2 separate regions of the Homo sapiens genome follow, and region 2 is linked to region 1. Evidence: fine-mapped expression QTL. Tissue or cell type: thyroid. Region 1 holds a variant in brackets; the other region holds the start of a gene. All regions are shown on one strand. Distances are between the middles of the regions.

Region 1 (12,799 bases):
ATTTCTGAGTTCTATGTTCTTCCATGTTTGTCAATTTGTCTATTCTTCCATACTGTCTTATAGATTTATTAAAAATATTCATATCTGGTAGTGTAGCTCTCTCAAATTTTTATTATTTATGACATTCTTAAACCTGCTCGGCCAATTGTCTTTTCCTATTAATTTATAATTGATTGCTAATAGTCTATTTTTAAACATTTGTTTTATTTCAATAGGTTTGTGGTATAAGTGGTTTTTGATTACACAGGTGAAATGTATAGTGATAAAGTCAGAGATTTTAGTGTCCCCATCATCCAAGTCATTTACATTATACCCAATATGTAGTTCTTATATTAATAGTCTATTTTGACTTAGGTATTTTCTATTCCAAAGTTGCTTCTTTGAGATCTTTACAAATCTGTCACCTTTATTCAAAATTATACAAATGAACTCTTCTAATTCATCAAATGTTCTCAAGGAGATAATGGGGAAAGAGTCCTTGCAAAACATCTGTCCTCATTGTTGAAGACTATAGATCATTGAGAGAGCCAGGAGGCCATGTGTTGCATGATATTGTATTATTATAGTTTCCATTTTGAAATTATTTGTGACTATGGATATTGTTTTCATATACAGCATCAATTCTCAGTATTTTGATTCCAGAACTGTCACTCTCCAAGACAGGGATGTTTCTGCTTTTGAGCCTTTGTACTCACTGTCCCGCTGCCTTAAATGCTTTTCCCTCAGTTACTGGCATGCCTAACTCCCTCATCTCTGTCAACTCTTTGCTCAAATACCACCTTCTGAATGAAACCTAAGAACATCACTTTAAACCTCCTTGCCCTGCTCTATTTGTGTGTGTGTGTGATGGCAATAACACAAGTCACCTTCTGACATACCATACAATGTACTTACTGAGTAAGGCCCATCTATTTTCTATCTCTCCACAACAGCAGAGGTCTTGGCTTTGTTGGCTAACATATCCCAAGGGAAGAACAGTACTATGTATACAGTAGGTGCTCAACACATATTTGTAGAATGCGTTGAATGAATGATTTCCTTCATGGAATCATAGGGTTAAGCGTAATCTGTTTCTACCGGTGATTTAGATATAGGGTATACTCTGGTGAAAGGTTGTAGCTGCCCTAGAGAAGTCAGTGTTCACAAGGGTCTGAGGAGCCTCCTTGCAAAGAATTCATCCTGACCCTAAGCATGGGATATTGATTCAGTAATATATTCTCTTAGTAGTTGCAAGGGAAGGGTGATCCTGACCATATTCCAACCACAATTGGCTATTCCTTCCTTTAGGAATTCATATCAGCATCCTTAGAGGGAGAAAAGAATGTGGTTTAAGAATATGTACATATTCAAACTCATCAAATTGTATGCAATAAGTTTATGTGGTGAAAAGGTAAATTTAAAAAAGTAAAACTTTTTTTCTCTAGAAATTCTGTAAAATATCTTCAAACGTGAATGTCCATCAGAGTTATTTGGAGGGCTTTTTAAAACACAGACTGCTGGGTTCCACCTCCAGCATTTTTAAATTTTGGTATTGGACCAGACAATTTGCATTTCTAACAGATTCCCAGGTTATGCAGATGCTGTAGGTCCAGGGGCCGCACTTTGAGAACTGCTGCTATAACATAACAGAAAGCAAGGGAATTCGGTTCCATTTTGGCTGTGACCTAAAGGAGGAAAGAAGCATTTTGGCAATTCCTAGTTTCTCATTTTGCCATAGAAAACTTTGCAAACTTTTGACACCTTGAAACATTTTAACAGCTCTAAAGTATCCACAAAAATGGACAGTGGCCCCCACAAGAGGGCTGATGCCCTGCAACACTAAGCAAAGGCCAGAAAAAAAGCTGGAAGATGTTTTCTTCCTTCTCCCCTATTTTGTTTCTTTCTCTCTCTCTCTCTCTCTCTTTTTTTCTTTTCTTTTTTTTTTTTTTTTTTTGACGCAGGGTCTCCCTCTGTCTGGTCCAGGCTGGAATGCAGTGGCATGATCTTGGCTCACCGCAACCTCTGCCTCCCAGGTTCAAGCAATTCTCCTGCCTCAGCCACCCAAGTAGCTGGGACTACAGGCATGCGCCACCACACCCAGCTAATTTTGTATTTTTAGTAGAGACGGGGTTTCACCATGTTGGCCAGGATGATCTCGATCTCTTGTCCTTGTGATCTGCCTGCCTCAGCCTCGAGTCCTGGGATTACAGGCATGAGCCACTGTGCCCGGCCTTTTCTCTCTTTTTAAGCCCCCTCCAAGGGTAGCCAGAAATAACTGGGTGGGCCTTCTCTGTGGCAATCTAGAGATTCTAAATTAGCAGGAACTAGAGTCAAGAGTCACTTGGGTGACTCATTTTTACAGACCTTTTAAACCATGATAAGCTTGTTAGAAACAAAATCTTCAACAACCTGGTTCTGTATCCTTGTAGCATGAGGAGGTCAGACACGCTGGCAGGAGGAGTCCTGGAGGGAATTTATGGTGTCATTGCACAGTGGATGTTTTATTTAATTCTGTCTTCCAACCACTGGCCAAAGGTAGCCTACAAGCTGAGGTGGTTCTGGATGCTAATAAATATCCCTAAAGAGCTCTTTAGGTTTCATCTAGGCTTAATTACAATGTGTAAATACAAAGACAGCCCCATTATTGATGTTAATCCTACTGATACTGCAGGAAGGGAGAGAACAGCAATGAAATAAAATACAATGGACAATGGTCTCTTATTAGCCTACTCAAAGAAAAAGTGAGTCTCCTGCTGGCTATCTGTGTGTGACTCCAGGTTAACCCAGATCTGATTACCTTCTGCTTGGTGTCAGGTTCCATCTCAGTGCTCAGTGGAGTTCCTGGCTAGATCTGAAACCTTTCCACGCCATTTATTTTAACTTCTGCAAGGTTTCTTGCTGAATTTCAGTGAAACCTGGACTCGGTTAAATGTGACCCACATTACCCAACTTTTCCTAGTAGCTTGATCCCTTGCCCTACCTCTTCCAAACATACTTAAGGCAGGTGAATTTTAGTTTTGTGAAGGGAGCCTGCCAAAAGCCAAGGGGCAGTGTTCAGACTTTCTATTTGTTTATTTATTCAACATTAATTAGCTACCAACTGTGTACCAGGTACTCTACAAGCCCCTAGGGATATGGAATTGAATGCTGTTTCCTCGACCTTAAGGAACTCCACCAAGGGAGAAAATTGGACACATTGACAGATAATAGGAGGCCAAGACATGAAGTGGCATTAAGGAGGTGTAGAAGAGAAACAAGCAACTCAACCTGGAAGAGACAGGTGCAGACATCTTAGTGGAGTTCATAGCTTAGGATGCATCCTTCATATTTGGTAAGAGTTAAGGAAATGGGGAAAGAGAGGAGCTAGCCAAAACATGCACAATGTTATAAATAAAAGTATAAAGATGATAAATCCCATGGTATCTGTGGGGAACTATAGGATTAAGAAAGTGATGGAGGAAAAGGGTCACAGTGAGTTAACAGTCCTTCTGTACCAGGTTCTGTTTACAAAGTAGTGGTGGAACATGTGGACACTAGAGGCAGATTACCTTAGTTCCAATTCTGATTGTTCCATGAGCTAGTTCTATGACACTGGACAAGTAACTTCACCTCTCTGTGCAGGTTCCTTAACCTCTTCATGTCTCAATCTTCACCTGTAAAATGAGGATGATGATATCTTTCTCATAGCTATGGTGAAAATAAAAGTTAATATATAAAAAGTGCTAGCATAATAAAAGCTAAATGAATACTAGCTATTATTATTTATTATCAAACACTTATGTATCATGTCCATTATTCCCACCAAAAATCCTATGAGCTGTGAGCATCCCTGTGTGAATTTTTTTTCCTCAAGCCTGTTCAACTCCAGCACTTTGGCTTTTAATTGTTATACTACACTGCAGTTCTGCAAACCTCTGCTGACATATCTCAAATGTCTAGCCATAAAGATGGGAAGAGGGTGTGAGGGATGAGACTGGATTGATACCCAAGGCTATTCCTTGAGGCTAAACCACAACTTGGAAAATGGAAGGAAAGCGTGAAATTGCAACTAAGCAAAAATGTCCCTGTTTCAGTCTTAGACAAGGTCTTGGAGGAACTCACGAAAAAAAATCTGCTGCAATAACAGTTGATTCTACCTGTTGTCTGGGCACATTTGAACATGTTATCTTCGAGGAACTGCTTCTGATGTTAAAAATTACTAAAAAAATGATAAAACAGTAAACATACTTGTGGGCTTTTCTTTTCTTTTAGAAATAAAGATCTCCTTATTTCACCAGTCCTTACAAATATAAAATTGTGATATATCAATATTTAAATAGACAACCTTGTGATCTAGTGTTTTATAACCCAGAATATTCCAGGTATGGCAAATTAGCTGGTTCTTTACTTAGGATCTCCATGGCATACAGTAAAACAGCCTGGGGATAGAGAACCCCCATATACAGCAAATGGCTTTTGGTGTTTGGGGAGGTTAAAAATAAGTAGGAGAATTGTAAGGAGAAGGTGAAACATTCTGTCTGTTCTCTTGTATTATCTGACAAATCTCTAGGCATCTCATTGGTCTCCAGTTTTGCAAGAGGTAACTTGTCCAGTTCTTTGGAGCATTGGAATTCTGCAAGGAGTTGTGGATAGCTGTGAAGTAAACCTTGTGGCTGTTAATGATTGAACAAGAGTCCATGTAGCATCTAATGGAGTGATCATTGGGTAGCTTGCAGGGCAGAAGCAAAGACACAGCATTTACAAGAGAAGGAGAGCAATTGTTTGAGGTTTGCATGAATTTGTCTGGAGACAAACATGCTTTTCTCCCTTTTATGTGGAAGGTCGTGTTTCTTATCATCTGCTCTTGATGAGTTTAATCACTACATTCCATTGCAGACTTTCAATTATTCCCCCATAGGAGGCGGCATTGGCATAAGAAGTGAAAAGTGGTTTAAGGAATACGAACTGACAAGTTTTCAATGCTGTGGATAATGCTCTGTGAAAGGGAGAGTGGGTCTAAAACAGACCCAAGAAAGAGGGCTTTATTTTGTCCACAGCCAAAAAGTTAAGAGGTCCATAAAGGAAGCTGCTATTTATCAGTCACCTGTCAGCATTACTTGGTGATTAGGGCAGAATTATTATTATTTTCTTTCCTTCTGAGGTTCCTGTCCTCCTGCTCATCCCAGTGTGTGGGAATTGCCTTCATCCGTCTAGGCAGATCTTACAGCATGTTGAAGAATCACAAGGCTTGGCTCCATGTGGTTCAGTTGACTTATGCATTTTCTGGTGGAGCATGTGAAAAAATCACTGTGTTCCTGTCTCAGTGGGGTGATATCTGGTTTGAAAGCTCTGTGAGAGAAACTGAAATTATCTGCAAGACACATTCACTATAGCGGAAAAGAAGCCATGCAGGACACCTCTGCCAATAGACACTGCGATTGCCTGTTATCTCCATTGGAAGCTGCTTATGAACTCGGTCTTACAAAAGGAAGGGGACCGCCAACTTATTCAGAGATCTGAGGCCTCTCAAAATGACCCACAGGCCCCACGGTTAGCTCAGTTGTTCAATCAGCTCCTATTAACTTTCCTGAGTTGGGCTGATGGTCCAAGTTTTGTGCTTTGTGGATAAGGCAAACGCCTGATGCAGCTTGACGTCACAAAGCGGTGGAGAAACACATCTGCAGGGGAGATGAACTGAGTGATGGATGTTCACCGATGCAGGATGTTTAACTGAATGGCATTTTCTTTTCCATAAAATGGAAGAACTCATTCAGAGAAACTACGGAAACAAA[A/CAAAA]AAAATAAAGTTATGCCTTGTGAGCAAGTAACTAGGCCTCAACTCAGTGGAGCATGATTAAGCATGGCTGGGATTTTCTTTCATATTCTGTCCTGCAGAGCGACTGTTTGAAAAATTTTCTGGCCCAGTGGGTTTTCAAACTTATTTAGCAGGGAACCAATTTTATAAATGAAATCTTTTGTGAAATCTCCCCTACTCCATCCTTTAGAAAGTATTAAAACAGCATTTCATTTAACAAATGTATAAGTTCATGTGCTTACAAACTCCATGGCTTCAAATATTGAAGTTATATTGATGAACAAACATTTGAAAACAGGTGTTGTGGATGACTGTTACTAATTTTAGAAATACGTTTGATGCAGTGATTAGATTCTTTTTTCAGAACTGAGACTATACTGGCTTCCATACATAGTTCCACATCATAAGTTTTTCAACAGTTCAAATTTCAATCTTAAGATATACTTCAGTTTTTCTACTAGTCTTCTTTCCATACTGAATCGGTACCAGATACACTTCTGAGTTCTGACTTGTGACCCTCCTGGGTTTCTTTTACTTCATTACTTATATTACGTATTGTCTCCCTATGCACCTATTCTTTGTCGCTCTGATAATAATTATTTGCATCTCTCAATAGGTGAAAGAGCAATTTAAAGGAAGTCAAAAAACAGGTTTCTTAGTAAGTCTAACATTTTCGTCAGAAAATACTTTTGTGCATATTATGAGATTGTGATATTTTCAATTATATATATGTTTTTAAATCTTGCGTATTTTGGTGCCTGTCCCAGCAACTACATGAAACAGAAGAATTTATTTGCTTTATATGTTGAGTACAAACTTAACTTTGAATGTCATTCCAGATATTTTATCCATAGTCCTAAACTCAATAACATTGTGTCCTGTGTTATGCTTATTTTGCTACTAAAAACTATATTCTATTTTAAGGAGAAACAGAAAAGTAGTGATTTCTCTTCTCAATTTAAACATTCATACTTGCCCTTCGTGTTGATCAGAAGAGCTGAACACTTCAGTTAAAAAATAAAAATCTGGAACTCTCTGCCCAAATAATTCTAAAATGTCTGTGATTTGTGAACAGTATATATTGTATTGTCTAAGCAACTGTAATTGAAAATGGTGCTACTCCATGCAACACACAAAAACAGCCTGATAATATCTGGGGAATAGCTTTTATAAGGGTCACAACATTTTACAGTTTTTCCTGTTGTTGCTTTTTCAACGTCTATATGCAGATGTCACTGCATTTTTGCCATACTTGATCATGTATTTGAAAAACTAATTCAGACCCTTCAGAATTTTTTTTGCATCGACGTGGAATAATTTAACCAAATAACAAATCTTCCTGGTATCTCTGTATGACCAGAACTTACCAAAGCAAACAAAATAGAGAGTTATAATAACCATTTGTTTTGTTTAGTTTTGTTTTGAGACGGAGTCTCGCTCTGTCACCAGGCTGGAGTGCAGTGGCGCAATCTTGGCTCACTGCAGCCTCCACCTCTCGGATTCAAGTGATTCCCCTGCCTGAGCAGCCCGAGCAACTGGGACGACAGGCACCCGCCACCATGCCCAGCTAATTTTTTGTATTTTTAGTAGAGACGGGGTTTCACCATGTTGGCCAGGATGATCTCGATCTCTTGACCTCGTGATCCACCCGCCTCGGCCTCCCAAAGTGCTAGGATTACAGGCATGAGCCACCGCACCCGGCCCATATAATAACCATTTTTGAGTGCTGTTGAATTCTGATGGTCTCATATAACCCAGACTTAAGCAAATTTATCCAGTATGCAGAATGTACTTTCTTAGCTCCATCTCTGAAATACATTATCAAATATTGTTTCTAATTGTACCGTTTAACACAACCTATTCATCAATCTACTTATTTCAATGACAATATTAGAGGCATTAACTTTTTGTCTGTTGTGGGAACATCTTTCATGTGATGAAGCCATTTATCTTAAATGCTACAACTGCATTTTAATCAAGGTATTTGAATTATCTTTGCACGCTCTTTTAAATAACATTTACATGTTTAGTTGTCCCAGAGAAAATTTAGAATGTATATTTGTGTTTTATATAAAAATGACCTTGTGACTTGGCTTGAACACTGCTTTGCATAATTGTACTGCATAAATTACATTGAGGGTTTGGACTTCTATCACCTTAAAAATGGAAACCAATGAAATTGTACTGTCTTTTTGAGTGGCTTTATGAAAAATACTGGCAACTCTACTATTTTATGTACTATTGAAGTTGTCACTGGCACTAGATGAAGAATCGTATGATGTTAGTATAGAAAAAACTGCCCTCTCATTTTGAATCTAATTGATGCTATCACAGTCTTTTTTAAAAAAGAATTTATTAAACTAATACTCCATTTCTAATGTGAATAATTAACCTACAATAGACAAATAAATAAATCTTTAGACAACATACAAAGCACTTTATAATATTATCATGGGAGGAGCTGAAATTTAGATCAGCACTGAAATTCTACAAGAGTATGTTGTATATTCATCACCTCCTGGCCTTTTGGCCAAGAACAAGTGAAGAATATGTTGTATGTTCGTTTGTTATTGCACAGCTATCAAGTAAGCGTAATTGGGCCTGAGCCTCGCATGGTATTCAATGGGATGTGGCCTAGAGGTGCTGAAGTGTAGTTAGTGTATTCTCTACTAGAAGGCTCATGTGTGAAGGACAAACACAGGTCTGAGTTTTTATAATGTTTTCTAAAGATTCATCCAGAATGTTCTACTTACCTATTTCTGTGTTACCAACTACCCTAAAACTTTATGGCTAAAACTCCAACATATCTTTATTTTGGTCATGAATCTTCACTTTGGGCAGGACTTGCCAGTGGCAGTTGTATGAGGCGTGAACTAGAGAGGCTCAGCGGGGGCTGGAGGATCTGTTTTCAAGATGGCTTACCCACATGACTGGTAAGATGGTACTGGCTGTTGCCTGGAAACTCAGCCAGGGGACATCTTTCCACTCCATTAGGGTCTCTCCAAAGGGTTCCTTGGGCTTCCTCACAGCATGGCAGCTCGGTTTTAAGGCAGAGTGTTCCAAAAGACAGAAGTGGAAGCTAACAGTTTGTTAATGCCTCATCTGGAAAATGGCACAGTGTCACTCCTACTGTGGTCTATTGTCAAAACAAGATCCTGCACCAGTTAAAAGGGACAAGACAAAGACCCCCTCTCTGCCTTGGGAGGAGGCCAAAGAATGTGTGACTGTCTTTAATCACCACACACAGTTACCACTTTCATAGTCAATGAACCTTTTGAAGACATTTCAAATGATTACACAGGGATTGCAGGGGAAGTTTTAGACCAAGGTTAACACAAAAACTAATTACTACAAAATTGAGAACAAACTAGATGCTAAGCGTAGGTCTAGTCGGGACATGGAGATACAAGGGAAATGACTTAACCTAGAAAAAATTAACACTTCGTCTCTGGAATGTTAAGATTTGCTATAAGCGCATTTGAGTATGTAAATTTGTTTATAATCATTGAAAAATGAAAATATAAATTTAAAAGGAATGAGAATAATAGAAGAATCTGCAGTTCTGTGGGAGGTACTATGAAAGTAACTATTTTCTTTTTTTTGAGACGGAGTCTCGCTCTGTCACCCAGGCTGGAATGCAGTGGCACAATCTCGGCTCACTGCAAGCTCCGCCTCCCAGGTTCACGCCGTTCTCCTGCCTCAGCCTCCTGAGTAGCTGGGACTACAGGCGCCCGCCACCACATCCGGCTAATTTTTTGTATTTTTAGTAGAGATGGGGTTTCACCGTGTTAGCCAGGATGGTCTCGATCTCCTGACCTCGTGATCTGCCCGCCTCGGCCTCCCAAAGTGCTGGGATTACAGGCGTGAGCCACCATGCCCGGTGGAAAGTTACTATTTTCATGTTCTCTTCTTTGAAAGTCCAATTTCTTTTGCCTTCCAGAAAGAAACAGTTCTGACTTACTACTTATTACCCTTCTGGGGTTCTTTCACCTGTTCATTACTTATATTAAATAGTGTTTCCCTGTGCCATCTATTTATTCTCTTGTTGCTCTGATTTAATACACCTGTTTTTCCTCCCTGTCTTCCTTGTTTCTTTCATTGAACAGCTGCTTTTCTAGTACCTGTCAGGTGCTAAGCACAGGGCTAGCTGGGATACAGACACAAGGATATAGGTTAAGAGCTTTTTGTCATCCATGCCTCCCTCTCTCCTGCTGCATTGTTCTACCAGGAGGACCTAGAATAGGGTTTATGGTATATTAAGGTGTCAATAAGTATGTATTGAGTACATAAATGAGAGTTCAGTCTTCAAATAACTCAAAATCTAATAGGAGAGGCATAAAGAAATAAAGCTGCTGTGCTGTGATATGTATTAAATTGGACAATGTAGGGAAATATGAAGGGGAGGTGGGTCAAAATACAGCCTAAAGATGACACACCTCAGTCCTCAACAAATTACCACAAAATCAAGAATGGGCAATTGATATAATTTTCTATCATGGTGGTATAGAAATTGAAATATTTATTGATTCCAAATAATTATAGGTTCTCATTTGGATAGTTATAGTTAGGTGTCAACAAACGAATAAAAATGGGACTGAAATCTTCATATAATTTTAATATCACAAAATATGTGAGAATCATATGCCTATTTTTGTCATTTTAAAATATTGTATGGTCCCACCTCATTAAATAAAATTTCCCCATGATTACAACAGTAAAATAATCTTATTGTGGAAAATACATAGGGTACAGAAAAGTACAAAAAAGGAAAATAAATTGTGCAGAATTTTACCAAGAGATAATTATGTTAACATTTATTATAAAGTGTACATAATATGTAGGTATTCATATGGAAAAAAGGGAATACAACTTTTAGAACATAATGCTTGTGCAGTTTTTAAAAAATTCCTGTCTTTCAGTTAAAATTTTATCTTCAGCCTTTATTTGTGAAAGTTTTCAAAAAAAACCATAATTTCTCATATCTATATGATTCCACATTTAAAATTTCTGTATTTAGAACAATCTCTAGTTTTTAAAGTTTACATAGTGTTCAGCTTTTTCTCCACCCCCATCCCTACCCCCCGCCCCCGAAAGAGACAAAGTCTCGTTCTGTCTCACCCAGCCTGGAATACAGTGGCACAATCATAGCTCACTGCAGCTTCAAACTCTTGGGCTCAAGTGATCTCTCACCCCAGCCTCCCAAAGTGCTGGGATTATAGGTGCGAGCAACCAAGCCTCTCTTGGCTTTTCATTTTCTATTATAAATAATGCCGTGATGGGATTCCCTTATGCGGAGATCTTTGACCATATCTCAATTATTTCCTTAGAGTTGATTGCTGTAGCTGGAATTTTCTTAGCTGTGACCACCCCGGGGCTCTTACTCTATATAGGCATATTGTTTTTCAGTGGTTTACATTAAAATATCTTTCCATATTGGCAGGCAACTGGAGAAAGTTTAATCAGGGCTGGATGACTTGCTGCTTTTGTTTTGTAGGGTCACTGCTTTGGCTTTCTTTAGAAATTCACTGTCACATACACGCACAGGCCCACCCACCCACACACACATACCAGCATATTTATGGGAATTTATAATTTTGTCCTTTAAAAATGCCTCGACTAGAGTGCAGATGAAAAGTTTTATATTTTTAATGATGCCAGCCTGCAGCCCAAAGTATGGACCTATAGAAGAGTATTGTAAGGAGGGCTTCCCAGAAGAGTAGCCACTTCTGGTAAATCACGAGGTTTAATCAGGAAATGATATGGTTTGGCTGTGTCCCCACCCAAATCTCACCTTGAATTGTAATAATCCCCACAAGTCAAAGGTGGGGTCAAGTGGAGATGATTGACTCATGGGGGTCATTTCCTCCATACTGTTCTGATGAGAACAGTATGAATAAGTCTCGAGATCTTGTGGTTTTATAAATGGGAGTTCCCCTGCACAACCTCTCTTGCCTGCTCCCATGGAAGACATCCTTTTGCTCTTCTTTTTCTCTCCACCATGATTGCTAGGCCTCCTCCACCATGTGGAACTGTGAGTCCACTGACCACTTTTTCTTTATAAGTTACCCAGTCTTGGGTATGTCTTCATTAGCAGTGTGATAACAGACTAATACAGGAATTACCAAAGAAGGGAACTGAAAAATGATTGTAGAGACCTGTTTAGGAATACAAACTTGGATATCAGGAGTTATTACATACAATGCCAGTAGTATTCTCTGCTTTTTTTTTTTTTTTTTTTTTTTTGAGATGGGATCACACTCTGTCGCCCAGGCTGGAGTGCAGTGGCGCAATCTCGGCTCAGTGCCAGCTCCGCCTCCCGGGTTCACGCCATTCTCCTGCCTCAGCCTTCCAAACTAGCTGGGACTACAGGCACCAGCCACCACGCCTGGCTAATTTTTTGTATTTTTAGTAGAGACGGGGTTTCACCGTGTTAGCCAGGATGATCTCGATCTCCTGACCTTGTGATCCACCCTCCTCGGCCTCCCAAAGTGCTGGGATTACAGGCATGAGCCACCGCACCCAGCCGTATTCTCTGCTTTAAAAAGGGATTTGTTGTGGATTGCTTTTGAATCATGAGTTTCTGTTATTCCCTGCCCCCTTCCTTCTTCCCAACTATTCAGGGCCATGTTAATTATGTAACAAGAGGCACACTAGTCCTGAGCCAGAGGTAGGATCTTCTCTGTGAGATGCCTTCATCTCAGGCAGCCTCCTTCACAAGGCCAGAGACTCCATCCAGAATTAGACCGACACTGCAGATAATGTCATTACCCTAAGGATTACAGTACAACATGATGACATGATGGTGCATTTTTATGGCTAGATTTTTAGATCTGAAATAGACACTAAGAATGCATTAGATCCAATATTCTGCCTTAGGCCCTTATTTAAAAGATTAATATTCTTGTTGTATGAGATAGCTAAGAGGAAGTGAGTCTGTGGATTACTACACACACACACACACACACACACACACACACACACACACACACTTATGGGAATTTATTATTCTCTCTATACACACAACACATGCA
Region 2 (12,799 bases), 150 kb before region 1:
TTGACCGCCTCTCTTCTTTTCCTCTTTGGTGTCCCTCTGTGCCACTACCAGAGCTTAGCATACTGTTGGGAATATCTGGACTGGAGGCCTGCTCTTGGTCCAGATCAAACAGAGAAATGGGAAGCAGCATAAAATAGTTAATGTCTGTCCAACTGTGCTACTGATTCTTTGATTTGTTTCCTCCTTCTTCTGTAAGATACTCTTTGCTCTGAGTGAGAGGTCCCAAAGACCTTGTTTTTCAGTGGCTACTGTACATTTTATAGAGTTGTATTCTGCTGGAATATTATGCCACAGGAGTCTACTGAATTGGGCTTTATATTAACCTCATTCATCTTTGGATAGGTTCTTGTTACAGGGGACAAATATAACCAAAGACTTCTTATCATATAGAAGCTTTTGGTTTTGCAATCATTGGCCTTTAAAGAGTTTTTTGAGGTAGCATTTTGTTTCTTTTGTCTTCTCTCCTCTAGTCAGTATTCCTGAAGCAACAAAAGTGAAATGTAGCTCCAAGTTTAGTTTAAAATAAACTGAGTTTATTTTTCCTATTTGTATTTCTAGGGAAGTTGGACCAGAAAACATGTTATGAAGTTGGTTTCGTGATTTAGTACATCAAAGCCTTTTTATATTAGACTTACAGGCTAGAGAAAGACAGAAAACAGAGAACACAGAAGTTACATTTTACAGTTTTCAGATCATTTTAAGACTATAATAAAGTTATGTTAATGCATTCTCAGACTTTTTGGTAAAGGTATATTTTCAAAAATCTAATAATACAATCTTTAAATAAACTTATTTAATCATAGTATATTTTTATCTATTTCACTTTAAGTATGAATATTAAAATTGGAAAAATATATATGCATATGTGAGTTTACATAATGACAGTGATATTATTTCATGCTTCTCTTTTCCTACTTAATTATGCAAACTATCCTTTGAAACCTGAAATGATTGTATAAGCACTGCATAATAGCTACACAAAAATAATGTGGAATTTTAATTCATGAATATACAAATTGGGAACAGAATTGGACAAAACAGGGGGGAAAAGGATAAAAAGACAATCTGCTCTAAGTCTTGTCTTTGAGTCTGTGACCTTAGATAAATTTATTTGTATTCTGTAAGATACAGGCAAAAACTGCCCCCTACCTATCTTTTGGAGCTGCTGCAAGATTTATTAAACTAGGGGGAAAAATGCAAAACAAAAACTGTTTAGAGGTGTGATGAGACAGAGGGTACACAAATCCAAGATAGTTTTGTTATCTCCAACGGGTGTCCAAGGTAGAATTAACTTTCATAACATCCTTATGAGTTAGGTAGATAATCTTAGCCCTGTTTTTAAAGATAAGAGGGCTTATGTGCTCCTACTAACACCACTTAGATTGGGTGTATGAGAACGGGTACAATTACTGGATTCAGAGCTAGGTCTGTATTTGTTGATACCTGAAAGTATTTTAAGGGACAGATTTTAAAAATCCCATCATTCTGTTGGCAGGCAATGAGAATAGCCTGCATATTATTCTCCCCAGTTTTCTTTCTGTGGTTCTTCATGAAATTGATCTGAAATGCAAGACAAGACACTTTGTCTCAATGGTATCCAAGGGGAGCCAAATATTTTGAGAACTATTAAAAGACATTGTTCAAACGATGAGGCATATAAATGTGATTTAGTGCAAACTGAAGCCAAAGTAGCCATCAAAAATCAAGAGACTTAGGAAAAAGGGAAGACAAAAAACCAATGAGACAGTTAACCTGTAGCTTATGCTGTAAGATTATGTGGGGAGTGGTTATAACATTCTCTTTAACATTACTTCCCACACACAAAATAAAAGCAAATAGAAATGGGGAGTATATATATTCCCCTCAGCCTAAAAAAAGTGCACACTTGTTCCCAAAATTGCTTGCTCAGCATTACTAAAAATGTTTCAAGCCAATTAGAGTGCCTGACACATAGAAAATCATCAATAAGTGTTATCTGTTATTAGTTGGATTTGGAGTAAAACAGTATTTCATAAAATCAAGAACATACTGGGAATAAGAATGCCTACGTAGAAACCTTGTCTCTTTGCACTAATTGCTGTGTGACCCTAGTTACTTAATATCATCTGTGAAGTGGGGAGAATGATAGTACTTATGTGATATAAGCTTTGTAAAAAAAAAAAAAAAAAAAAAAAGGCATGAGCTGGTACATTTAAACTCCATAGCATAGTTTCTGGCATAGAGTATATATCTGATTTACAAAGTACTAGTTACTAAGAGTTGTGCTCCTAGGCTTGTTATACTGGTGCCACCCAGCTAACCAGCCATTATTTATTGAGCACTTAATTAACTAGGCACTGAAAGAAATGTTGAAATGAGGTTAATGTTGAAAATAAATGTTGAAATAAGGAGCACAGGGCCTTTATCCACATGTGGATTTTTTGGAAGTTATTAACAAAAAACAGGTTTAAGTAAAATAATTAAATGCTGTAATATACGCTTAGAAAGATCTGGCAAGAGATTGATACAGAAAATGTGGAATAAATTTCTTCTGTAGGCAGAGGTTCAGGAAAAGTCTCTCTAAGGTTGTATATTTAAAGTGAAGGTCTCAAAAAAGAGGAGTCAGCCATATGAAGTGGGGTTGGACGGTGGACGTTCTAGGCAGGCGGAACAGCATGTGCAAAGGTCACGAATTGGAAAAAACTGGGCACATCAGCGAAAAGGATAGCCCCTAATGGTTGGCGTATTAGGATGAGGGTAGAGAATCCTGCCAAATGTGATGGAGAAGTGAGTACTTGGTCAGCCATGGTAAGGAGTTTGGATATTATTCTGTTTGTGATGGTAAGCTGGCAGGAAGTATTAAGCAGTTACAATAAATTATATTTTTTATCCTTTTGAAAGACTACTTTTGCTGCCTTGTAGGGCAGAGTGTCCACACTTTTTTGATTGTGCACACCAATCAGTATACAATGACTAAATGTTCATATTCTTTGTCTTTCTGCCTCTGCTTCTTTCTCTATCTGCTTCTGTCTCTCTCTTTATACATATATATGCATATATATGAATATATATACATATGTTTATATTGTATATAAAACTGTATATAACATAGGTATATTAATCAATAATTAAATATTTTAGCAAGGCTAAATTTTAATCTTTCTGATTAAAACTAAATATATCACCAAATTCTATTATTTTCATCTTGCACAAAAATGGATCACCTGAGTGTGCTTGTGCCCTTGTACTTGTGTCATCTTTGGAGATGACTATTGGAGAGAAGGAACGGAACAGTGCAATTATGGAGTAGAGTGAGCAGTAAGAGGCTGTTGTGGTAGTCCAGATGAGAAATGATGATAACTTAGATGAAGTCGTGGCATATTTGTCACGTGCACAATGAAAAGACTCCTTATTGGAATTACAGATTTATGTTCTCTACTAGCCTTTGATATCAATTACTTTCCTAACAAATGACTCATTCTTATTATATTATATTAATAAAAATCTATTGGATTGCTTAGTGGGTTGTTGGATTGAAAACATCTTGAAATAGACTCCCCTCCATGATTAGCCTATTTATTGGAGTCTTCTAGATAAGGGGAATAATTTAGGAAATTACTGGTACTTTCCGCTTCTGTTTGTTGGCAAAAGTAAACGGGGAGCAGAGCCATAAGAAATAAAATGAATCCATCTATCTACATATGAACAATACGGCTTGCAGCCAATGTCATCCACACTTGTGTAACTTCTGTCTCAAATGAATAATTAAAATCAGGCATTAAAAACTTGCCTGCTCTCTATGAACTCCCAGCAAATGGACTGCAAATGCTTTCATTTTAAAGGGATCATTCTGACAGGTGTGTTTGAAAAGAGGTTGTAAATTCTGGGAAGGAAAAATCTACTCTACTTGTACGAGCATTCTTCAGGAAGCGCTTCCATTTTGAAACCAAAATAACATAAATGGTGGTAGGGCAATGATAGACTAAAGCCAGGAAATCTGAATCCACTAATGTCTTCTTTTCCATTTTGCTTCTTCCAGCCTATATTTGGATGATAATTTATTTGGGTTCTGATTCTTTAATCTGCTTTTCCTTTCTTGGAGGAATTCCCATGTACTTATCCAGACTGGAAAGGAGGTTAGCAGGGCATAGAAAGAAGTCATTAAGTAAATGATCCTGCAAAGCTCTAAAAACCTTTCTGAGGAAAGAAAAAACTACCGCTCTGGGTTTTGACAAAGAACATTTGCAATTTGAGGAGGAGAGAGGACCTCTGGCTCTCCTCTCCTCCATCTAGAGGCCATAGCCTGCCAGACAGCCTTTCTGTTTTGGAGGATTCAGGCATAAAGGAGCTTTTGCTTGTATTTCTTCTTTAACGACAAACAGGACACTCTTTTAGGTCCTTTTAGGTACTCAAGTTTAATGGCTGAGAAGCCTGCCCTCCTTGCATTTGCACTTTTTCTGCGCTGGTCGTAAGAACAAGAACTTAGGCCGATATTTTACAACACCTCTCTGGATTGGATTGATATAACAGACGTTTTCTTGGACATTAGAAAGAATTTCATTAATTGAAGAGTAATTATCACTCTGTATTACTTTGAACTTGGCCTCATCGCAAACACGGTATACAGATTTTTCAGTGAGGTTATTATTCTAGTATGAAAATGAACAAAAATGTAACTAGAAACTGGAATCGGTACTATTTTGTTGTGTCATTCATTTATTCAATCAGTAAATATTCATTAAATAATGTAATAACATGTACCTAAGAGAATATTACGTATATGAAGACTGCAAAGAAATCTGAAACCATTTCAACCCTTAGAAGCAAACTGTCTACTTTAAAAAGGATTGGATTTTGAGAAATCCTTTGCCGTTTTCAAAGCCCATTCACCTGCTATAAATCTTCATCTGAACTTACGAATAGTAGCAGGGTGCTAGGCTGGGCAGATACTATAATCATACAATTATAGAATTTTAGGAGCGGAAGGGATTTTAAAGGTCATCTAATGTGACCATTTAATTTTAAAGCTTAGGAAGCTGACAGATTGTGATTTGTCTGAGGTCCCAAAGCAAACCAGTGGCAGAGCACCATCACAGACTTGCTATTAGGGATCTCAAAGCATGTGGCAGTAGCACTGGGCCAGGCACCAAGTGACACAGAATAACTATAAGTACTGTGCCTCCTTTCCTGTATTTATTTGTTATGCAGATATGCATTAGACTCACAATAAATATTTATTGAACTAATGACTGGCAGATTTCCTCCCATGTAGGGTACTGTGCCACGTACTGAGGAAAATGGTAAACAAAAAACAGGTCACTTCCTCCAAGTTGCTCGAAATTTGATCTTCCTGTCCTCAATGAGTTTGCAGTCTCTTAGGGAAACCAAGATATATACGCTTAAAAAACGCGTAGTGGAAAGCGTTTTCTTAAATATGATTGCATGCAGGAAGATTGGGTTCAAATTCAGTGAATGCTTTAGGAGGTTAGGAGAGAAATCTAAGCGTTAAAATTGATGGGAAAAAAAATCCCCCAAACTAACACACACACACACACACACACACACACACTCACACACGAGATCATTTAATTACATCACTCTCTGCTGCTGCCTTTCCGGGATCTCCCCCCAGGCTGGGACACACAGGCTCTGCTGCGGGTAAGGTCAAGATGCCAACTCAGGAAGCATAAGAGAGGGAAGGAGCAGAAGCCCACCCATCCCTATCTCCTCAACTAGAAAAGACCAGAAAGACGGAGAAAAAAGGAAACAGCAACATAGACTCATAGAAACAATAAAGCAGGAATAGGAAGCTCCCGACACATCGACTGCTCCGGGAGCCCGGGGTCGACCGCCCCCGCGGGCAGGGTGCGCGGACTCAGCGCCGGGACCCGCGGCCGCGGGGGCGCAGAGTGGGCGGCGGGGAGAGGCGGCGGCAGCGCCTGCGAGGCCGAGGGGAGGTCGCCGGCGGCGCCTCCAGCGCCCGGAGACCCGGTGCGCAGCGCAGCTCGGCCGCGGGACGCGGCGCCCGGAGTCCCGGCAGCGCCTGCCCTCCCTCCCGCGTCGCCCGCCAGCGCCCGCGCCCGCTCCGCCAGTGACTTCAGCTCAGCTCCACCCCCGCGCGGCGGCGGCTCGCTCCGTCCGGACCCGCGCTCGGCACAAGCCCAGCCCGGGCAAGCGGCCGCCACCTGCCCGGCGCCGCCTCCGCCCGCCCCCACCGCGGCGCAACTTGGATGGAGTTGGGGTCCTGAGCGCCGGCCCCCCACAGCCGCCAGCGCAGAGCTCGTGCCGCCACCTTCGTTCTGGGACCCCTCTCTCCGCTGCTCTTCGCTCCCGCGATGGGAAAAGTTGGCGCCGGCGGCGGCTCCCAAGCCCGGCTGAGCGCGCTCCTCGCCGGCGCGGGGCTCTTGATCCTCTGCGCCCCGGGCGTCTGCGGCGGCGGCTCCTGCTGCCCCTCGCCGCACCCCAGCTCCGCTCCACGCTCGGCCTCGACCCCTAGGGGCTTTTCCCACCAGGGGCGGCCAGGCAGGGCTCCTGCCACGCCCCTGCCCCTCGTAGTGCGTCCCCTGTTCTCAGTGGCCCCCGGGGACCGAGCGCTATCCCTGGAGCGGGCTCGGGGCACTGGGGCATCCATGGCGGTTGCTGCACGCTCCGGCCGGAGGAGACGGAGCGGAGCGGATCAGGAGAAGGCAGAACGGGGAGAGGGCGCGAGTCGGAGCCCCCGGGGAGTGCTAAGAGATGGAGGGCAGCAGGAGCCTGGGACTCGGGAGCGGGACCCGGACAAAGCCACCCGCTTCCGGATGGAGGAGCTGAGACTGACCAGCACCACGTTTGCGCTGACGGGAGACTCAGCACACAACCAAGCCATGGTCCACTGGTCTGGCCACAACAGCAGCGTGAGTAGAATGGGACTGAGGGTAAAGGGGTGGAAAGATGGAAAGGGTTAAAGTCGGCTGTGTGATCTGATGGAGAATTGGGGGGAAATAGGGTTTCTGGACATGGGAGATGCTGCAAACTGGTCTCTGCCCACTTCCCCCAAGAGTTAACATCACCTACTAGGAGACCAACCTCCCCATCTCTCCCACCAACACCATCAGAGTCCTCTCCAAATGCCACAGCTTCAAACTGAGGAGTCAAATCCCTATTTCCTGTTGCCTTGGTCGCATTGGTGTGTGGAACTGAAGACCAGGTAAACAGAGGGGTTAAAGTTCTCCTAATACAGAGATGAAAGGGTTAAATTTCCAGGCAAGCTGACATCCCCTCAAGTGACTTTCCCTTTACTTGCCAGACCTATGTACTGGCTCAAAGAAGATTAAGAAGACCCATATATGTAGGCGTTTTATTTTATTTTATTTTAATTTCATGCGGAGCTCCTAACCCCTTCTTCTCCACAAGGGAGAACTGCAGTGGAGAGTATATAAGGTGTTCTTTAGTGTATCCTCTGCTTTAGGGACCAAGTGGATGCAAGTTTCAGGGCAGGAACTCTCCAGCATCTTCTAACAGCGCTAAGCGAGGGTGTTTTGAGAACTGGGGCTTTCCAGCCCGTGAATGAGCGGTTGTTCTCTGGCATGGTCAGTCCCAGGAAGATCAGATATATCCCAGTGACAACAACTCCCTGTTCTCCCCCATTGCCTGACCTCCTCTAATGAAGAGCACAAATAAAGACTTAACATTCCCTTTATGAAGGCAGGAAAGGGATTGCTCAATTCCAGGAGGCTGGATTCCAGGGGACTTAGGATGCAAGTCCATGAGCTTTGGTCCTATCAGGAAAGGTTTTAGATTTTCAGAAAAGCTTGCATGTCTGCAATCTGAGGGAGCTATTCCTGTTTAAATTGAACCTAGAAACTTCAGTGAGTTGAAATAGTAGAGAACCAGCTTTGATTGTAATAACTAAAAGTGATTTTAAAGTGTGGAAACTTCTCCAGACATAGACAAGAACATAACAACCAAGGATGGGTAAAATGGGGGAAAAAAATTTCAAGTTTTACAGCTTCAACCAGGTAATTGAGATTGTAGTGTTTGTAATATGCACAATTTACGCAGTCTGGAACCTTTCAAAACGTTTTCTGTTGTGATGTAATTCCCAGAAACCTTCCCAGAGAAGTGCCACTTTAGTGAGTTGTGCTCATTGTCAGCTTTTTAATGAGAGTTGTGAACATTTTAAAATACTAATCTGTCATCATGAATTCCTTGGGTACACAGATATAAATTGTATTAAGGCACATCATGATAGATAATATTTAGCATTGATGTATCTGTCCTGAGAGTAGTAGCAGGGTTTTCCCTACAATTCCTCCTTCATGACAGAGTCTGTGATTTTATATGGTTCTCAGGAGTGGTTTGATCAAATAAATGAAGCTGAAATTCTTTCCATTCAAGTTCTGGAGACCCTTGCCCTCATTCCTTACCTTAACCATTATATCTTTCATATCATAGCCACTAAAATTAATCCTCTAATTTGAACTCGAATCTTCTTAAACTGATTGAATAACTTTCACACTGCTTTAAGTGATTAACTCAAAGCTTCTGGCTTTAAGGGGAGATTTGAAACACATCAAACATGTTAGCTCTTGTTGTATTAAGAAGTAAAAGACTTTGGACTCAGAATGTTTCTGGCTTTTAATGTAATTCAAGCTGTAAAATATCACTCACCCATTAGACCTCTTCTTTTAGCTCATCTCTTGAAAGATCTTGGAAAGAAAGAGAAAAGTAGAATACATCTTTGGCAAATTTTTAACCTCCGTTTAGGAAATGGTGCCAAGCACTGCCAGCATTAAAAAATAATAATAAATGGTGCTTATAATTCTAGTAGGGCTTATTAGGTTCAGGGCATTGAACATGCAGGCAGGTCTGAGATAACGTAGGAAATGAGGTGATGAGTGTTAAAGTTTTGATCACTCAAATCATGTTAACTAATGAGGTGAGATTTCTGCCCCCTGAAGTCTCTTATTCCATAAAGACCTCTGCTGACCCAGTCTCTGCTCTGGTCATCACACACAAAGGTGTTTCTTCTTTTTCTTTTTTAAGTATATACATACAGATAGTGGAGAAAGAGAAATAGTCTTTATCTATGTCCTCCAAAACAAAGCCAGTCCTACGTATCTGGACCAGACTCAGAGAAAGTTTAAAATATTTTTTAAAGGGAAAGAAAGCATAAATAAACTTTTTTTTTTTGGCCGTTTTGTAGAATGCAAAGCAGAGTGGAGACCTGAATTCTAGTTCTGCTTATTTGTGGTTTGACCGAGGCAAGTTGAGTGTCCGCTGAATGTGGATTTTTTCATCTCTAAAGTGGGGGCTATGCCGGTCAGATTAACTACAGAGAATTAGGAGCCAGGCTATACATAAGAGGGCAGTGTGACTTTACAGCCTCATACACTTGTTTGGAACTCTCAACAGCACTTCACTTTACCCCAGGGTGGGAAATCCACTAATTTAAACCCGAGGGCCAGATTGGAGTGGTGGAGGGGCATGGGGGACTCTTATCTTTTCACATTTAGATGTCCTCCCCTATAAATCTGCCCCCAGACCCATTCAGGACCACAGGCAGTGCACATCCTGTGAACCCTTCTCACCTTTAGCAAAAAGCCTTTGCTATGAAGAGTCTCTGATTATGACAACACCTGCATTCAAGGTGCAAATGCATGGTAATTATAGGCTGCTTGTCAATCTGGTGAGGAATTCTGGATGGTTCACTCACCTCCTTCCCTTCACTTTCCTGCCCCCTCAGCTGTTGGACTTGAGCAGTTGTATAAAGACATGTCTGTTTTGCCTCGTCTGTGGGTGTGATGTGATTCCTCTGTACTGCAGTCTCGATTGATGGAAACTGTTGCTAGAGTTGGTGGAACACCTGGGGGGATCTTCTGGCATGAAAGGTGCTGGGTATGAATCATTTGTCATGAGCTTGGTGTCGTAAGCAAGAACATATTGTTCCCACCCTACTCATCCCAGGCATGCTGTGCCCTGATCTAAATTTATATAGTAATCCTTAGAGTGTTAAAATATATATTTGCCTTTATATGTATGCATAATGGTGTATGTGTTTATTCCTTATTTCCAAGGGATTTTAAAGTGCTGTAGCATTAATCTTTATAAAATCCTTTGTAGGTAGTAAGTAGGTGACGGGTGTTAATATCTCTTTTTCATATTTTTATGCCGGAGTTAAGTTTAGTATTTCAATTCACCACTCTGCCCCTTTCTCACTGGCAATTGTATTACAAGATTTGTTAACAGAGGGTTTTACTTGACTTCTATTTTTCCATGATGACATCTTTAATGTTACATTTCTCATAGCACATGATGGACTGCTTGATTTCTGTGTACCTCTTTGCTTCTAGTTGTTCTGGGATTTGACATTTACCATCCAACATTAGTGAATAAATTGAGTCCCAATCTGGGCCAACTTTTGGGGTAGATGCTTTACATTCATCATCTCACTTAATTTTTCACAGAAATGTCATGTGTAGGTGTTATTATTGTCATTACATACAGGAGGAAACTGAGGTTCCAAGAGGCTAAATGAATTGCCAAATAGACACAGGAGGTCAGTGGCAGAACAGAGACTGTCACCCAAAGTGATCCTATTCCCAGACTGCACAGAAGGGCTTGTTCAATGGACTTTAAAGTAGGACGGAAAAACTCAGACCTTTTGGAGTTTATATTTTAGATAATCCTATCTTGAGTTGATTTCTGATGATGGTGGAGGAGGACGTACTCTTAGCTGGAAGCTCCATCTCCTTGTAGAAAAGCGAGGACATTAACATGTGCCTGTCACATTGCACCCTTTACCTTAAGTAGTGCTTTGGTTGTTCTCTCATCCACCCACCTCTTCATCTTCAGTGAGACATGGAATCTGCACCTGGTGATTCAGTGAGCAAGAGGTAACCTGCGATCATTCAGCTTTCAGCTCAGTTGTTCCTCAGGAATAGATTCCTTTTCTAATTTAATGGCAAATCTGATATTATAGACACACTGGCTGTGAATGCTTGACTTGGCTATACATTTTGATACAGTTTTTTTTTTTCGGTGGGGAGGAGCTGACCTTTTAAAAAGTAAAATGATGAAAGATTTTAGCTTTCTCTAGCAAGTCCACGTAATTCCTTCTCTCAGTACTTAATGCTATATGAATGCTAATGTGGTGTGATTTGGAAGGCAATGGGTTTGAAATCAAACAGATTTGAGTTTGAATCTTAGTTGTCCTGCTAAATCAGCACGTTGCCTTGAGTAAGTCACTTAAATTCTTTGAGCCTGAGTCTCCCCATCTAAAATATGGGGATAGTATATCTTTCGGAGGTTTTTTCCTCAGGAGGCGACATCGTGGATACAAAGTGCTTTATTCCTAGTAAATGCTCAATAAATGCTACTTACTCATGGGAAGAAAGATTTCTCTACTGGGAATTAAGAATTGTGGGTTATAATACTGGCTGTATACAAAAATTAGATACGTAGTCATAGCATGTTGAAATGTTGTAGCCTCAATTTCATCCTCTGTAAAATGGCACTAATGGACTAAAATCCATTACAGGTCAAAACTAATTTAATACTTTGTTCATACAGATACTGGATACCTGCTGCATTTACTAAGTAAAGTGCACTAGGAGTGTTGGGGATGTAGAAATGACATAATGACCTATACCCTTGACCTGTAAGGGAACAAACCTTTTATTTCACAAGGTTCTTCCTTTTTCCTCAGTTCATATGCATATCTGTTTAGGGGAAATCAAGTAATGTGAGATCCCAGCAGGCCTTCATTTCAATCTGTGCACATGGGTTTGCAGCAAAACATAGTTTATTGGGTTTATTGTATTACATCTTCATGTTAAGGAACTTGCTAACTTTGGACCCCCCTTCCCCCCCAAAAAAATGCCTCATGTGAAATTGGAAAGTAAAAATCTCTTAGTTATTTAATGAGATTTTCTAGAGAACATTGACATGAATGTTGACTGTCAGAACTACATCCACATTTTTTTAAAGAGAGACCTTAGAAGTTCATAGGATAGGGCAAAAAAGCAGATACATGAATCTCATTTATATATGAAAATAATAATTGCTCCCATTTAGGAGTAATTGCTATGTGCCAAAATTATGCCAAGAGCCTTACGCAAATTATTGTGTTTAGTTTTAATTCAACAAATATTTATTGAGCTCCTAATATTTGTCATTCACTGGCATAGGGATATTTGTGAAGTGCTACACAAGATGAAAAGAAATAATTCCTGCCCTCAATGAGCTCTCGGTCTTGTACCCAAAGAAACTTCTTAAGAGACAGCAGGAGATGTACGTTCTCTGAGGACAGAACATGCTGTAGGAAGTCAGGGGAGAGTTGGGCATCTTCTGGCTGGGATGGCCTTCAAGCTGGATTGTAGAGTAGGTACTTCAGAGAAACCTTGAAATGTAGAGAAGATTGTAAGTAACAGTTGGAGATTATTACAAGGATATTTTTAGCTGAATGGATGTCATAACCAAAGGTCAAGGGAAGAGATGTAAACATTCCTCTTTATATCCAGGAATTTAAATTACTTGATTTAAAAACTATGTTTAACGAAAGTTTTAACCTTAGGAATGATTGAAAAATATGAGTTAAGCAAAAAATATACACATCAATCTTGTAGTAAATTTGGGTACATTCCAAGCCCAGTAGGAAAATAAAAACCTTTATGGTCATTGAGAGACATGACTGACCTTATTTGCACATTAAATCTTAGCTGGAGTCATCATTGTTTCATTTTTACCTTGATACTTTCCACACAGAGTTTTCACAAAAGGACTTTCTTTTGTTTAAGTTATTGGTGAGAGAGATCACTGTTCAGGCTGCCTTGAGGATAAA

Direction of the effects. Alleles are on the strand shown, and positions count from the first base shown. SD is a standard deviation of normalised expression in the study named.
For the expression in thyroid of the gene that starts at base 6,135 in region 2, allele CAAAA in region 1 goes with a higher level than allele A (small effect, 0.39 SD a copy in GTEx).

What was found. PIP is the estimated chance that this variant, and not a neighbour inherited with it, causes the effect.
Region 2: SORCS1 starts here. The variant in region 1 is fine-mapped to the expression of SORCS1 in thyroid (GTEx, PIP above 0.99).

Annotation. Positions count from the first base shown.
Region 1 is chr10:107,003,388-107,016,186 of GRCh38, reverse strand. The region is part of intron 1 of SORCS1 (sortilin related VPS10 domain containing receptor 1); the gene reads left to right. Among named protein-coding and RNA genes, the nearest start is that of SORCS1, 150 kb to the left of the region's middle. The variant A/CAAAA (reference allele first, on the strand shown) is at 5,751.
Region 2 is chr10:107,158,042-107,170,840 of GRCh38, reverse strand. It overlaps SORCS1 (sortilin related VPS10 domain containing receptor 1), which reads left to right and starts at 6,135. Exons shown (of 26, transcript NM_052918.5): 1 at 6,135-6,872. The coding sequence starts at 6,315. RefSeq lists a silencer at 6,226-6,419.